Homo sapiens: one gene and its partner. The protein of the gene in region 1 interacts with the protein of each later gene in a biochemical or structural test. Each region holds a gene or a part of one and is shown in the gene's direction. Other genes may lie near its edges.

Region 1 (7,037 bases):
TCCCGTGATGTCTGGGGAGAGGAAAGTCAAGTATCAGGTGCTTTCCAAACACTGGATACTTTGTGGGTTTTTCTGCAGGATTTGATCATCCCTGCTCAGCTGGTTCCTTTGTCTCCCATGAGCATTTCAAATATTTCTTCTCATTCCTTCAAATATTCCTTCTTTAAAATTTATTGATGGCCTATTTTGTTGTATAGGACTTGTTTGAGCTATTACTTTTACAAATTTTTTTATTAGTAGTAGTTGAACATGGATGAACTATTTTTATGTAGTCAAGTATATCATTTTTTTTCTGTTTAATGTGTCCTCATCCCCATGATTTTTTTTTTTTTTTTGAGACACAGTCTCTGTCGCCCAGGCTGGAGTGCAGTGGTGTGATCTTGGCTCACTGCAGCCTCCGCCTCTGGCGTTCAAGTGATTCTCCTGCGTCAGCCTCCCAAGTAGCTGGGATTACAGGCACCCACCACCACACCCAGCTAATTTGTGCATTTTTAGTAGAGTCGGGGTTTCACCATGTTGGCCAGGCTGATGTTGAACTCCTGACCTCAGGTGATCCACCCACCTCCGCTTTCCAAAGCGCTGAGATTACAGGCATGAGCCACTGCAGTAGCCTACATTTCTAATTTTAGAGCTTCTAGTAGCCATATTAAAAGGTAAGAAGAAACAGATAAAATCATATTTTCTTTAATCCAATGTCTAAGATATTATCCTTTCAATGTGTGATGAATATAAGAAATTATTAACATGGAATTTTACACTCTTTTCTTGGATTAAGTCTTCTAAAGCCAGTGACTGTTTTGCCCTTGGCACATCTCCGATTGAACTTGCTACATTTCAAGGGCTCAATTGCTACACATGGCTGGTGGCGGCTACACTGGGTAGCACGGGCTCAGCTGATCTTCCCAGACGTGCCCTGAGTAGGTATTGCTGCATTTTACAGATGGGAGCTCTGAGGTACACAGAGGGAAACGCTTGCCTGAAGTCACCAGCTAGGAAGCGTGTGGCTGGGATGTAAACCTGAAATGGTCTGACCCCAGATAAATTGTACCTGCTTAACCCTTGTGGCTCCTCTCTCTCATCTTTTCATACAAAATGTTCATGAGCACAATTTTACAACAGAAAAAAGCTGTCCATGGAAAACACGTGAATGTCCCCCTGGAGGGCAAGTGGTGAAGGTAGTTTAACATCATCACAGAGAAGCCCTGAGCAAAGGGCAGACCAGAAACACTGCGCGTGGGTGGGGACCGATCGAACAAAAGAGAAAAGCAATTCAAAGCCACAAGACGGATTAGTCAGTGTTGACATGTGGAGACAACTGCTTTGTCCTTTGTTTAAAAACACTCAGATCACCTCCTTCCTCTCTGACACACACTCTTGCAAGGTCCAGCTGGAACTGATTTCAAAGCAAAACACAAAACTGTAAATGTGCTGGAAAAACTCAGTGAAAACTTTTGGAATTCTAAGGAAAGGAGGACTTTTTTTTTTTTTTTTAATTATCTTGGGGATGAGGCTGGATGCAGTGGCTCACGCCTGTAATCCCAACACTTTGGGAGGCTGAGGTGGGTGGATCTCTTGTGATGTGCACCTGTAGTCCCAGCTACTCGGGAGGCCGACGCAAGACAGTCGCTTGAATTCAGGAGGCGGAGGCTGCAGTCAGCCAAGATCGCACCACCGCACTCCAGCCTGGGCGACAGAGCGAGATTCCGTCTCAAAAAAACAAAAACAAAAAACAAAACTGATGAGATGCCCGTAAAGTGTTAATTCAAGCTCCAGCAAGGCCGCAGCCCCCCGTCTGATGCTCCTGAAGTCACCGACTCTAAATGGTGTCGGGCCCTCTTGCCAGTGACTAGCCCCATGCTTTAAGCTCTCAGAATCCTTCTGACATCAGGGTTCTTCCCTCTCAAGGCTTTCCACGAACCCTGTCACTAGTTGTGACCCGCACATGTCCTGTTCGCCTCACATTTAGGGCTTATTGTCTTTATTCTCACAAAGATGTCTCATCTCTCTTCTCCCTGCCGGCCCTGCAGTCCCTGGTACGTGAGCCCCTTTCCCGGCGCCGGCAGCTGCTCCGGGAGAACTTTGTGGAGACAGAGGGCGAGTTTGTCTTCGCCACCTCCCTGGACACCAAGGACATCGAGCAGATCGCCGAGTTCCTGGAGCAGTCAGTGAAAGGTGAGGGTGCTCACTTTTCTCTCCTGAGGTCTGCAGCTTGCGCTGACCCCGGCCTCCCAGCCTGTCCCCAGTCCTGGACCGTTTGACCAGAATCCTGCCTGCTCCGGCGCTTGTGAGCCAGGGCTTCCCAAGGACCACGCTTCTGTGTCTCCCTCAGACTCCTGCGAGGGGCTGATGGTGAAGACCCTGGATGTTGATGCCACCTACGAGATCGCCAAGAGATCGCACAACTGGCTCAAGGTGATTCTCGACCCCCAACTGGGCCTTCTCCACCCCGGGTCTGGAGGTCTGTCCCAGCTAGGCAGTGGATTTCGAGCCTCCACTGTGTACCCTGTCTGAGCTCAGGGCCCCTTTTCACAATCCCACCCCAGCCCCCTGCTGCAACTGAGTTCAGACCTTCTCCCTGCTGCGAGCCCTTGCTCACGAGTTCTGATGGAGAACAGCCCCAGCCCAAGCACCGCACATCCCACGAGGTGCAGCGTGATGAGGTGTCTCTCTCCTGAGCCTGCCGCCCGTGTCGGGCCAGGCTCTTGGGCAGGAATTAAGCCAGGACATGAATAAGAGAAAGTCAGGCAGGAGTGGGCGCCATGAAGAAAAGCAAGTCAGCTCCGGGCCAGCAAGGCGGGGCTGGGAGTGCCCCGGATGATCAGGAAGAGTCTTTCCCAAAGTGAGGGACAGAGCACTAGGGAGGAAAACCCCCGGTGCAGAGACCCTGAGGGAGGAGCAGCCTCTGCGTGTGCAGGGAGCAAGGGCAGGCGAGGCGGGAGGTGAGCTCAGAGTGGGGAGCAGGCCCCAGATGAGGCAGCACCTGGGGCCACTGTGAGATAAAACTGGATCTTCCTCTTGAAGGTTTCAGGAAGTCAGTGGGGGTTCCGTGCCGGGAGTCACAGGTTGTCATTGTGCGAAGCTCCTGGGGTTTCCCCTCGAGTGGAGGACGGGTGTGTTGAGGGCCAGCGAGCAGGAGCCTGTCATCAGTAAGAGTTGATGGATGTTTGAGTGGAGAGGGGCAGTGAGGGGTGGACAAGGGGACTGGAGCGGGAGGCATTGTGGCACTGAGCCGGCCAGGCCTGCTGACTAGCTCTTCCTGTGTACTTATGTCTGTCTGTGGCTGGTTTCCCTCCAGCACAGACCTTTCCTGTCTCAGGAAATAGCACTGTTGTGCCCCCAGGGCTGAGCTTCTGCCTGGCACATGGTTAGCACTTAGTGAACGTTTCTGAACGAATGGGAAAATGCTCTCCCTTTGGAGGAGTGGCCAGAGTGAGTTGGCCACGTCTCTGTCCTGAGGGAAAGACGGCGGCAAGGCTGACTCCTGAGGTCCCATCGATCCCGCCTGCGTTTCCCATTTGTTCTTATTTATTTATTTATTTATTTTAAGACGGAGTTTCACTCTCATTGCCCAGGCTGGAGTGCAATGGCACGATCTTGGCTCACTGCAACCTCCGCCTCCCGGGTTCAAGCGATTCCCCTGCCTCAGCCTCCCAAGTAGCTGGGATTACAGGCACACGCCACCACGCCCGGCTAATTTTGTATTTTTAATAGAGACGGGGTTTCTCCATGTTGGTCAGACTGGTCTCGAACTCCCGACCTCAGGTGATCCACCCGCCTCGGCCTCCCAAAATGCTGGGATTACAGGCATGAGCCACCGTGCCCGGCCCCATTTGTTCTTATTTAAACCTAGAAACCCTTCCCATGTCCAGTCTCTTCCCAGGGGCCATCCTTGGGGTTCCTTCTGGAAGTTCCCTTCAGACTTACTTCTAGTCCCTCCTCAGTCCACTGAGGAGCCCCTCCCCAGCAGTGAGGGCCCCGCCTTGGGCGCTCCCCCTTCTCATCTCTTGCCTCCCCTTCTCCCAGCTGAAGAAGGACTACCTTGATGGCGTGGGTGACACCCTGGACCTGGTGGTGATCGGCGCCTACCTGGGCCGGGGGAAGCGGGCCGGCCGGTACGGGGGCTTCCTGCTGGCCTCCTACGACGAGGACAGTGAGGAGCTGCAGGCCATATGCAAGGTCCTGGGGAACTGGGGCTGATGGCAGAAGCAGGAGGGAAGGAGATTAGACTCCCGGGGGTATTTCCTATTGCACAACCCAGACCGAGGGGTGCTCACATCCCCCTGTGAAGGATCCGTTCTCCCCAGTTTTTATTTACTTTTTCTGGTTCTATGAGCAACTCTTGCTTCATATAGAAAAACAGGCTGGGATAGAAAGATGTCAGGAATGTGTGTCAGTGAGAGATTGAGATTAGCTACAAATAGTGGTGGCTCACATAAGAAAAGAATTTTTTTGTTATGAAATGAGAAGTGTGGAGGGGGCAGTCTGATGCCATTAGGGATTCAGGTTCCTCCTCTCCCCACATTTTTTTTTGTCCCCACATTTTTTTTTTCTGCCATGTGCCTCTGGCCTCATCATCACAATGTGGCTGCAGGAGTTCCAGCCCTCATGGCCATGCCTGCTCCACGCACCAGGGAAGAGCAAAGGGGGTTGGACCCTGAGTCAGCCTCAGCCAGTGAACACCTTCTGCTCAAGTTCTGTTGCTCATCACTTTGCTCCATGGCTCACCCCTAGCTGCAAGGAATTCTGGGAAATGTAAAGTGATTTACTTTTTTTCAAGTTAAAGTTTTTCTTAAAGCTGTGCACATTTTGGACTAGATTTTCTTACGTATTTCCTATATTCCCCTCTCCAACAAATTTGGGTCTTTTGCCACAGAAACAGAACAAAATATCACCTAGAATCGTACCACCCAGAGACACGCAGTAGTGACATTTGAGGGAATGTTTTATTTACATTTTTGCAAAGTTGTGATCCTTCTCTATGAGTAATTTTCTTTTCTGCCTTTTTACCCTGGAAGTACTTTGTTTTCAGTGTTGTATATGCCCTTAAGCAATATGGCAACAGGACCTGAATGCCCGCACAAGAGTTTTCAAGTGCTGTGCCCCATAGCACATAGTGCTGTGTCCTGAACCAGCTCCCCGTGGCTGTGTGGGGAAGTTGTTGCCGGCTTTGTTCTGATGGGTAATGTGATTACTTAGTGTCCGTTAACCTAAACGATCAGTGACAGAAGTGACTTTTATAAATCACAAATGTTTTGGCCACCAATCTACATTGTCACCATTTTGCATTATTTAGAATAGATTTTTAAATGAGCTATTGTCAGGACAAAAGGCAAAAAGAATCCTTAAGACTCTCAATGCAAAAGGGGCTTTCCAGGTGACGTTTATATTGGTGATTATTGCCCACTTGCTGCGTATCTGCCAGCATCCAGCATTACTGCTAATTTTTAGCCTTTCCTATTTTGGTAGGTGAAAGAAGCTCTTGGCAGTGTTAACATTGGAGATGGGCTGGGCATGGCCACTCACGCCTGTAATCCCAGCACTTTGGGAGGCTGAGGTGGGAGGATCACTTGAGCCCAGGAGTTCGGGACCAGCCTGGGCAACATAGTGAGACCCCACCTCTACAAAAACTTTTTTAAAAAATTAGCCAGGCGTGGTGGTGCATGCCTGTGGTCCCAGCTACTTGGGAGGCTGAGGCAGGAGGATTGCTTGAGCCCAGGAGGTGGAGGTTGCAGTGAGCCAAGATTGCACCACTGCACTCCAGCCTGGATAACAGAGCTACACCCTGTCTCAAAAAAAAAAAAAAAAAAAAAAAAAAAGACTGGAAGTGAGGACAGCCAGTTACTGGGCAGTGAGGATGTGGGTGAGCATAAGGGAGTGACTTCCTGGGGCCAGGGAGACAGTGGAAGCAGCAAGAGTTTCTCCATAAAGCAGAAGACAGGGAGTGGTTCACGGCAGGCCTGCTGGGAGAACATTCCCACCCGGGAGTCTCTGGATGGATGCTCCGCACCCCCAGCTCCCTACTTCCCTGGTTTTCTGTGGATACTGCGTAGACCAGAGTGGGGTGGGGGCCATGAGTGTACACAGCTTTAGATGGCAGGAGCAAGTGCTGGGCCTGTGGCTGGCTGAGCCTCTGACCTCCCGCTTCCTCCCTGCAGCTTGGAACTGGCTTCAGTGATGAGGAGCTGGAGGAGCATCACCAGAGCCTCAAGGTGAGCCATGGCGGCTGCGCCTCAGCCTCCACCCCTCTCCCCCCTGCCCCTGACAGCACAGTCCTTCCATGCAGGGCTCTTGGCTTCCACCATCTTGGGGCTCCAGGTGTGGGCAGGAGGGCAGCAGGCAGTGGAGCTGGCTTTGGAGTCCAGCATCTCCAGGTTCATGTCTCAGCACTGCCGGCTACTAGCTGGTGACCCTGCTCAAGCAGCCTCACCTCCCCAAGCCCTGTGCCTCATTCACACCAGGGGTTAGCCAAAGGACACAGCAGGTGCCATAGCTGCTCCTTGTGAAGTGCCTGTGAGCCCTGATCAATGTGAATGAATGTTGTCATGGTCACAGGCATTTCAGGCATGAGTGTCTGTCCTACATATTGGATCTGTATTAGTTTATTTTCATACTCATACTGCTATGAAGAAATAACCCAAGACTTGCCGGGCGTGGTGGCGCATGCCTGTGGTCCCAGCTACTTGGGAGGCTGAGGCAGAAGAATTGCTTGAACCCAGGATGCAGAGGTTGCAGTGAGCTGAAATCATGCCATTGCACTCCAGCCTGGGAAACAGAGTGAGACTCTGTCTCAAAAAAAAAAAAAAAAAAAAAAGGATCATTTATAAAGAGAGGTTTCCTGGACTCACAGTTCCACACGGCTGGGGAGGCCTCACAGTCATGGCAGAAGGCGAAAGAGGAGCAAAGGCACATCTTACATGGCGCCAGGCAAGAGAGCGTGTGCAGGGGAACTGCCCTTTATAAAGCCGTCAGATCTCGTGAGACTTCCTCACTATCACGAGAACAGCACGGGAAAAACCTGCCCCCATCGTTCAGTTACC
Region 2 (7,037 bases), on another chromosome or scaffold:
TATTCTTTGAAACACTCTCTTCCCTTAGCATCTGTGATGTTACATTCTTGGTATTTCTTCTGTTTGTGACTTTTGAATTTTATCCATGTTTTCTTCTTATCATTTGGAATTCCACAGGCTTTGTCTTAGGTCATCCTCCTTTCATTACTTTTTGAGTTTTAATTAGATTTAGGCTTTCATCTTCTTATAATGGAAATTATGATGAAACTTAAATACCTTTAAAAAAGTAATGACTTGTTTTTGTGAAAGTGATTTATATACATTATACAACTCAAGCATCACAGAAAACATAAAGTAAAATTTACTTCAAATCCCACCACCAGGAATTAAGCAGTGTTAACATTTGGTGAGCATTCTTCTAGACATATTTTCAAAAATAATAGTTACAGTTACAATTACAGGATTTTAGTATGTGCCAGAATGATTGTAAAGTGCTTTAAATCCTTAAAACTATGTGGTAGAGTTATTGTTACCTCCTTTCACAGATGAGACAGAAGGGAAATAATTTGCCCAAGGTCATCATACATGTAATAAGTGGTAGAGATGGTATTCAACCAAGAGAGCTTGGAATTTGGTAAACTCAAGATAAAGTCAGACTGGATCTGCAGGGGGCATAAAGTGGTACCTCCTCTCTGTTTAAATTGTTTAATTTACTTAAACTATAGTTTTTGCCCAAGAACGAAGTCAGGCAAGTAGTAGAACCACACTGTACCTCAGTTCTCAACATTTGGCTCTGAGTTGTTTATTTAGTAATATGTTTTAACACAAACTCTATCAGTTTTTAGAAATTTGTTTAACATTGTCTTTTACTAATTTAGTATATGAAAATGATGATCAGCTCCTGTGGGACCCTGAGTACTTACCAGAAGATAAAGTGATTATATTTCTTAAAGATGCATCTAGAAGAACAGGTGATGAGAAGGGTGTAGAAGCAATTCCTGAAGGATCTCACATAAAAGACAATGAACAGGTCTGTGAAAGAAACAACTGTTAGAACTTTGCCATACACATTTATACATGTAAATGCTGTCACTTGCATTGTTGTTATTCTGTCCACCAAACTTTTTATAACATTATTGACAGGGAATCTGAGGTTATAATCCCTGTAAGATATCCGTTGTTACCACAGTGACTTCATTGGTGTGAAGCTCAAAAACGAAACAAAAACCTGTTTTATTTTGCCTGTATATACTTTTCATTAGGCTTTTTAAAATTCCTTTGGCTATCCCTAAGAATCTGTGTATATCAAGTTGGAATTCTCACCTCGGATTATCTTATGTACATGGTAAGACCAGTGCCTACCATGAACCTATCTTTTTTACCTTTTTAATCATTGTTTTTTTCTGATTTGTTTAAAATTATAGGAATCTCAAGAAGCCACAAAGAAGGGATTTTCATTGATATAAAATGAATTCTTTTTAGTCCTAGGGATACTATGGCCACCAAGTTTATGCATATCCTACTTTGTACATATTTAAAGGTAGTTGATTTATCAGGATCGAATTCATATTTGTTTTTCTTTGGAGTTCTCTATATATAACATTCACTAAAGTTATTTGCCCTCAAAAAGGATGAAAACACTGGATGTTTGAAAAACTTTTAAGAAATTGTAGCATTGAACTGTTTATAGTCCTTGTCACATATTCAAGCCTTTTATTTTTCTAGGCTTTATATGAATTGGTTAAATGCAATTTTGATACAGAAGAAGCATTGAGAAGATTAAGATTTAATGTAAAAGCAGCTAGAGGTAAGTATAGTTTTTATTCATTTTCATGATTTGGCAGAAATTTTAAAATTAAGCTTTTCAGTTTACCTAGGTATAGCCTAAACTTAATAATACTGATTTTTCTGAGTTTGATAAATATTTACAAAATACCAAGTATTACTAAACAAATCGTTACGGGGAGTGGGATTAAGATTGTCCCTTCCTCCTTTGTGGGAAAATACAGTCATGTAAGTAAAAATGTAAAAATTTATACTGCCTTATGCATTCAAGGCATATTTATAAATATTTTCTTATTTGATCTTGATAATTGCCCTATGAACTAGGTAGTATGACAGATAATACCTTTACTTAAAGGTAAAAATTGATGAGCCTGAGATCTCTGAACTAAAGTAACTTGGCGAAAGCAAACATAATTCATCAGTAATGAAGCCATGACTAAAATTTGGATTTTTCTTTTTTATACTATATCTGGCTCCTACCCCCCTTCACTAAGAGTACTACATATATATATATACACTACATATATATATATATATATATATATATAGATATGTAACAAATGAGAGATATTTATTTAACAAAAATTTGAGTGCCTTCTGAATTCTGAGGATGTAACTATAAACAAAGTCCCTTCCCCTCGTGGTGCTTAGAGCTTAGGTAGGGAAACTGGAAAATAGCTGATGAATTCTTCAAGGAAAATTAGAGGGTGCTATTGAAACCTGTAGTAATGGGACTTAACCTATTTGCAGAGAGGGTAGTGCTTTTAGGGAAAGCATTCAGAATGAAGTAATATTTTTGTTGGGATGCAAAAGAATTATCTCAGTGAAAGGGGATGAGGCAGGAAATAATTCTAAGCAAAGGAGAGACACCATGCACAAAGTCTGAAGTAAGAAAGAACATGGCAAATTTAAGGAATTGAAAGGTGGCTGAGATAGTTTGATCAGTAAGAATTAAGAAGAAAGTGGCACAAGTTGAAGCTGGAGAGGTAGGGACCAAATCATTCAAAATCTTATTAAATAAGGAATTGTTGTCACTTTATCTTTTGCAACAATTAGTAATAGAGCTCAGGAGTAAAATGCTTCCCTCATTTTTACGAGAAGGTTAAGTTTTCATTTGTAATTTTGTTATATGCAATAATTGGGGGAATATTGCTTAACAGTTTGTTCCTCCCATCTTGTCAGAGGAATTATCTGTTTGGACAGAGGAAGAGTGTAGAAATTTTGAACAAGGGCTGAAGGCCTATGGAAAGGATTTTCATTTGATTCAGGCTAATAAAGTAAGTAATGATAATCTCTTTTTTGCAAAAAGAAATTTAGTTGAACAACTCAAATGGTCATGTATCGTAATTTGTTATATTGTCTAGTGTTAAAGGTTTCATAATTAATATGACAATATTTTGGTATTTAGTGAGTAATTATAGTAAGGCTGCCTATACTTCCTAACCTATAATTACCTGTTGGTGACTGTTTTCAGTGCATCATATTGCAGGTGTTTAAGAATTGTACTCATTTACAAGCATGTTAATCAACTTCTAGTTGGGGTGTGTATGTGCAATGCAATTCTTTATAGCTGTTTTCCACAGTCTGTGACTGTTTTATGGAGGGCCTTTGAAATGATTTGGAAACTTTAAAGCACTTTCAATATGACATTATTTGCAGTTAAAATATTTATTACATTTGCTTAAGTCCTGAGTGGTCTAAAATCAAATACTTAATATTTAACTTAGTTTTAGTCAACATTTAATTTTCTAGGAGCTTCTGTGTCGATAAATCAGCTTTATATTCTTATAGTTATAATTTGAGGATTTTATTTAACATAATCATTTATCATTTCATGTTGATAATATCAGTCATGTAATTTATACTCCAAATAGCTTTATAATTACTTACAGATTTGTTTTGGGGCTTAATTCTTATAACTGAAATTAGGTATGATTTTTAATAGTAACCATATAATTATATAGAATAGAAAAATGTGTTGTTTCCATGAGCAACACATTAGGACAACAGATTAGGACAGGCAGAATTAAAGTCTTGGAGATTAAATGTAGGAAATTAATTCCCAGGCTTATGATTATCACATTATTTTTAGTTAGTAGAAATGACAAGGGTATTGGTTTATGTAATTCCTTAAAGATAGCTTCTAAGTTTTGTGTCGTAGCTTGTCCAGGACCTTGTTGAAAGTACCTGGGCTTATGTCTGAGGCTCTGAATAGTCTTCTGCCACAGCTCTCTTTTTATACATTTGGATGTGATTGGATTGTATCCAGTTGATTTTTTTGACACATATTTAATATTTTTTGTTATTAATAAAATATTTACAAATCCTGTGGGTTCATTTCTTAAATTTTGTCGTGCATTAACTAGTTTATTCTTATTTTTATTATTTTTTTTTTAAGTGGGAACTGGGCAGTGAAGAGCCCCACTCCCAATTAGTTCATTCTTAATTATTTTGTTGAATGTTGGCAGTTTACCGCAGATAACACTAATAGAGAAATGTTTAGTTTTAGCATTTAGGATAACTTAGAAGACAATGTAATTAGTTTCAAAAATGTATACCCCTAATGTTGTGTTCATATCATCTGATAACCTCAAATATAGTTAACATTCAAGAAAAGGAGTGCATTATGTGACTGGCCGTGTATGTTTTTGATTAAAAAAGAAAAAAGTTCGTTGTTTCATGGTTGAAAGGGACAACATTTTTGGATGAGGTTTTTTTTTTGTTGTTGTTGTTGTTGTTTTTTAACACTTCTGCTTGAATTAAAACACTCTTAACCAAACCATGCTGAATTACCTAAGGAAGGGACCCCTGGAATGATAGCTTATGTAACAAGCAGCAGCAACAACCCTGACCAATATGATTTTTTTAAAGGAGTTAAGAAATTATAGGTGACTTGAAACTTAGAGCCAAGTAACATAAGTATTAAAAGTATAACCTTGATTTCTCATAAATATTTGGGACAGTGGCATTTAAATGTTACAAGGTAGAAGTCAGCTGACCTCTACATAATACACTAAATTACTCTAGTGCACAAAAAGAGGACAGTAATTCTTTAAAAGGGAGACGAGTACTCTAGTGAGAATATCGAGTTTGTTTTTATGTCTGGAATTAAAGTTCAGATCTTAATCATAAGTTCTATTTTGAGGGCTTTTGTTGAAGATTTTTCATAATCTTAACTTTGCATGCCCCAAAATGACTTTATCTTTTTGCTTTCAGTAAAGTACAGTTGACTTAGTTCGAATCTATCTAGAAATAAGATCCTAGAGGAGACAAAAAACAGCTTGAGAGGATGATTTTTTTTAAAGTCCTGATTGCTGTCAGTCTCAGAGCAATATGGATCAGAGCTGTACAGTGCAAACGGGAAGAAAGCAAAATATATGTTGGGTAAGGGAGGGTATCATCAACATTTGTCCTTTAGGTGCAATCAGTGCTACAGAATATTTACTTCAAGAGCAGAAATTTATGGGATAAAGAAGTATATTGCATCCAGAACACATACAGACACTGGATTTCCTTTTAAATGGTCAGTATTGCCGGTGCAGTGGCTCATGCCTGTTATCTCAGTACTTTGGGAGGTTGAAGCATGCAGATTGCTTGAGCCTGGGAGTTCAAGAACAGCCTAGGCAACATGGCAAAACCCCATCTCTACAAAAAATAGAAAAATTACCTGAGTTTGGTGGCATGCAATTGTGGTCCCAGTTATTGAGGGTGCTGAGGCAGGAGGATTGCTTGAGCCTGGGAGGGCAAGGCTGCAGTTAGCGGTTTGGTGCCACTGTACTCCAGCCTGGGCAACAGAGCATGACACTATCTCAAAAAAAAAAGAAAAAGAAAGGAAAAAAGTTATCAGTATTTTATTTATATACATCAGCCCTAAATCCTCAGTATTTTATATATATACATCAACCCTACCACCAGTTCTCCCGGCTAAGTAACAAAAAGGAATTCTGTCAGCATCATTTAATTCCGTAGGCATTTAACATTATGTGAGGGGAGCCATTCAGTTGCACAAATAGGTACAGCACAGTAAGCCGCAAGAGTAACTTAGTAAACAAAGCATTAGCATTATTATGATACTTTTAACTCACTGTGGCATCTTCCCAGACTTTCTAGAGAGTAAATTAACTGAGTCTGGGTTGCTGTTGGGACTAGTAAGAGAATCTTTCAAAAGGGAATTTAAAGATACGCTCCCTAGGTACCCGTACTCTGTGAGTAAAAGTATTAGCAAACTGTTTATAACATTTATTTTAACATGAATGCCACTTCCAGGCCTTTTTTTTGTGTGTGTGTGTGTGAGACTGAGTCTCATTCTGTCACCCAGGTGGGAGTGCAGTGGTGTGATCTCAGCTTAATGCAGCCTCTGCCCCCACCCCCACCCCCTGCTGGGGTTCAAGTGATTCTCCTGCCTCAGCCTCCCGAGTAGCTGGGATTACAGGCACCTGCCACCATGCCCGGCTAATTTTTGTATTTTTAGTAGAGATGGGGTTTCACCATCTTGGCCAGGCTGGTCTTGAACTCCTGACCTCGTGATCCACCCCCCTTGGCCTCCCAAAGTGCTGGGATTACAGGCGTGAGCCACCGTGCCCGGCCAACTTCCAAGCATTTTTAATACAGGAATATATTTTTCTAGTAAATTAGGATGATGGTAGCATTTTAAAAAGCACAGTGCTGTATATCTGAAGACCTGTTGCCAATATATTATTTCTCTTAATAGATGTTTAGAAAGAATAGCTTTCAACATAGCTGCTACACTGTTGTATGTTATATATAGGATTATATTTCAGTTAAGGACTAGCCAAATTTATTTTCAAACTTCAGATGTTTATCATGAAGTAACTTTGTTAAAAAGGAGATTCTTAAAAGCAAGCATTTGTTTCTTACAGGTCCGAACAAGGTCAGTTGGTGAATGTGTAGCATTCTATTACATGTGGAAAAAATCTGAACGTTATGATTTCTTTGCTCAGCAAACACGATTTGGAAAGAAGAAATATAATCTTCATCCTGGTGTAACGTGAGTTAATTTTTTCCTTAAGAGCTATATATACATTTTTGCTAAGCTTTTCTAGATTTTTCTTGAGTTAATTATTATTTTGATAATCTTGCTTTTATATACTTGATCTTAACCAGAAGGCCGAGAGTGATAAAATCTTGCTTTTATAATACACATTAAACTTTACCATCTATTATATCTTCATAAATAAGGCATTTAGACTTTTCAGTGTCTTATGAAATATTGTAAACTACAGTTCATATTATGTATGAGACAAGCATATCATTAAAGCAAGATTTAGAATGTATATTTTTAATACACTGTT

Evidence for each region.
Region 2: the proteins of LIG1 (region 1) and MIER1 interact in a test that uses a peptide from one of them, tested with the Homo sapiens proteins (one study listed by BioGRID).

Annotation. Positions count from the first base shown.
Region 1 is NC_000019.10:48,118,309-48,125,345, reverse strand, and holds part of LIG1 (DNA ligase 1), read left to right. Parts: intron 1-2,027; coding exon 2,028-2,172; intron 2,173-2,329; coding exon 2,330-2,412; intron 2,413-4,023; coding exon 4,024-4,176; exon of another isoform or gene 4,177-5,179; intron 5,180-6,155; coding exon 6,156-6,209; intron 6,210-7,037.
Region 2 is NC_000001.11:66,969,990-66,977,026, forward strand, and holds part of MIER1 (mesoderm induction early response protein 1), read left to right. Parts: intron 1-818; coding exon 819-970; intron 971-1,665; coding exon 1,666-1,747; intron 1,748-2,907; coding exon 2,908-3,002; exon of another isoform or gene 3,003-5,529; intron 5,530-6,605; coding exon 6,606-6,733; intron 6,734-7,037. UniProt on the Homo sapiens protein: Transcriptional repressor regulating the expression of a number of genes including SP1 target genes. Probably functions through recruitment of HDAC1 a histone deacetylase involved in chromatin silencing.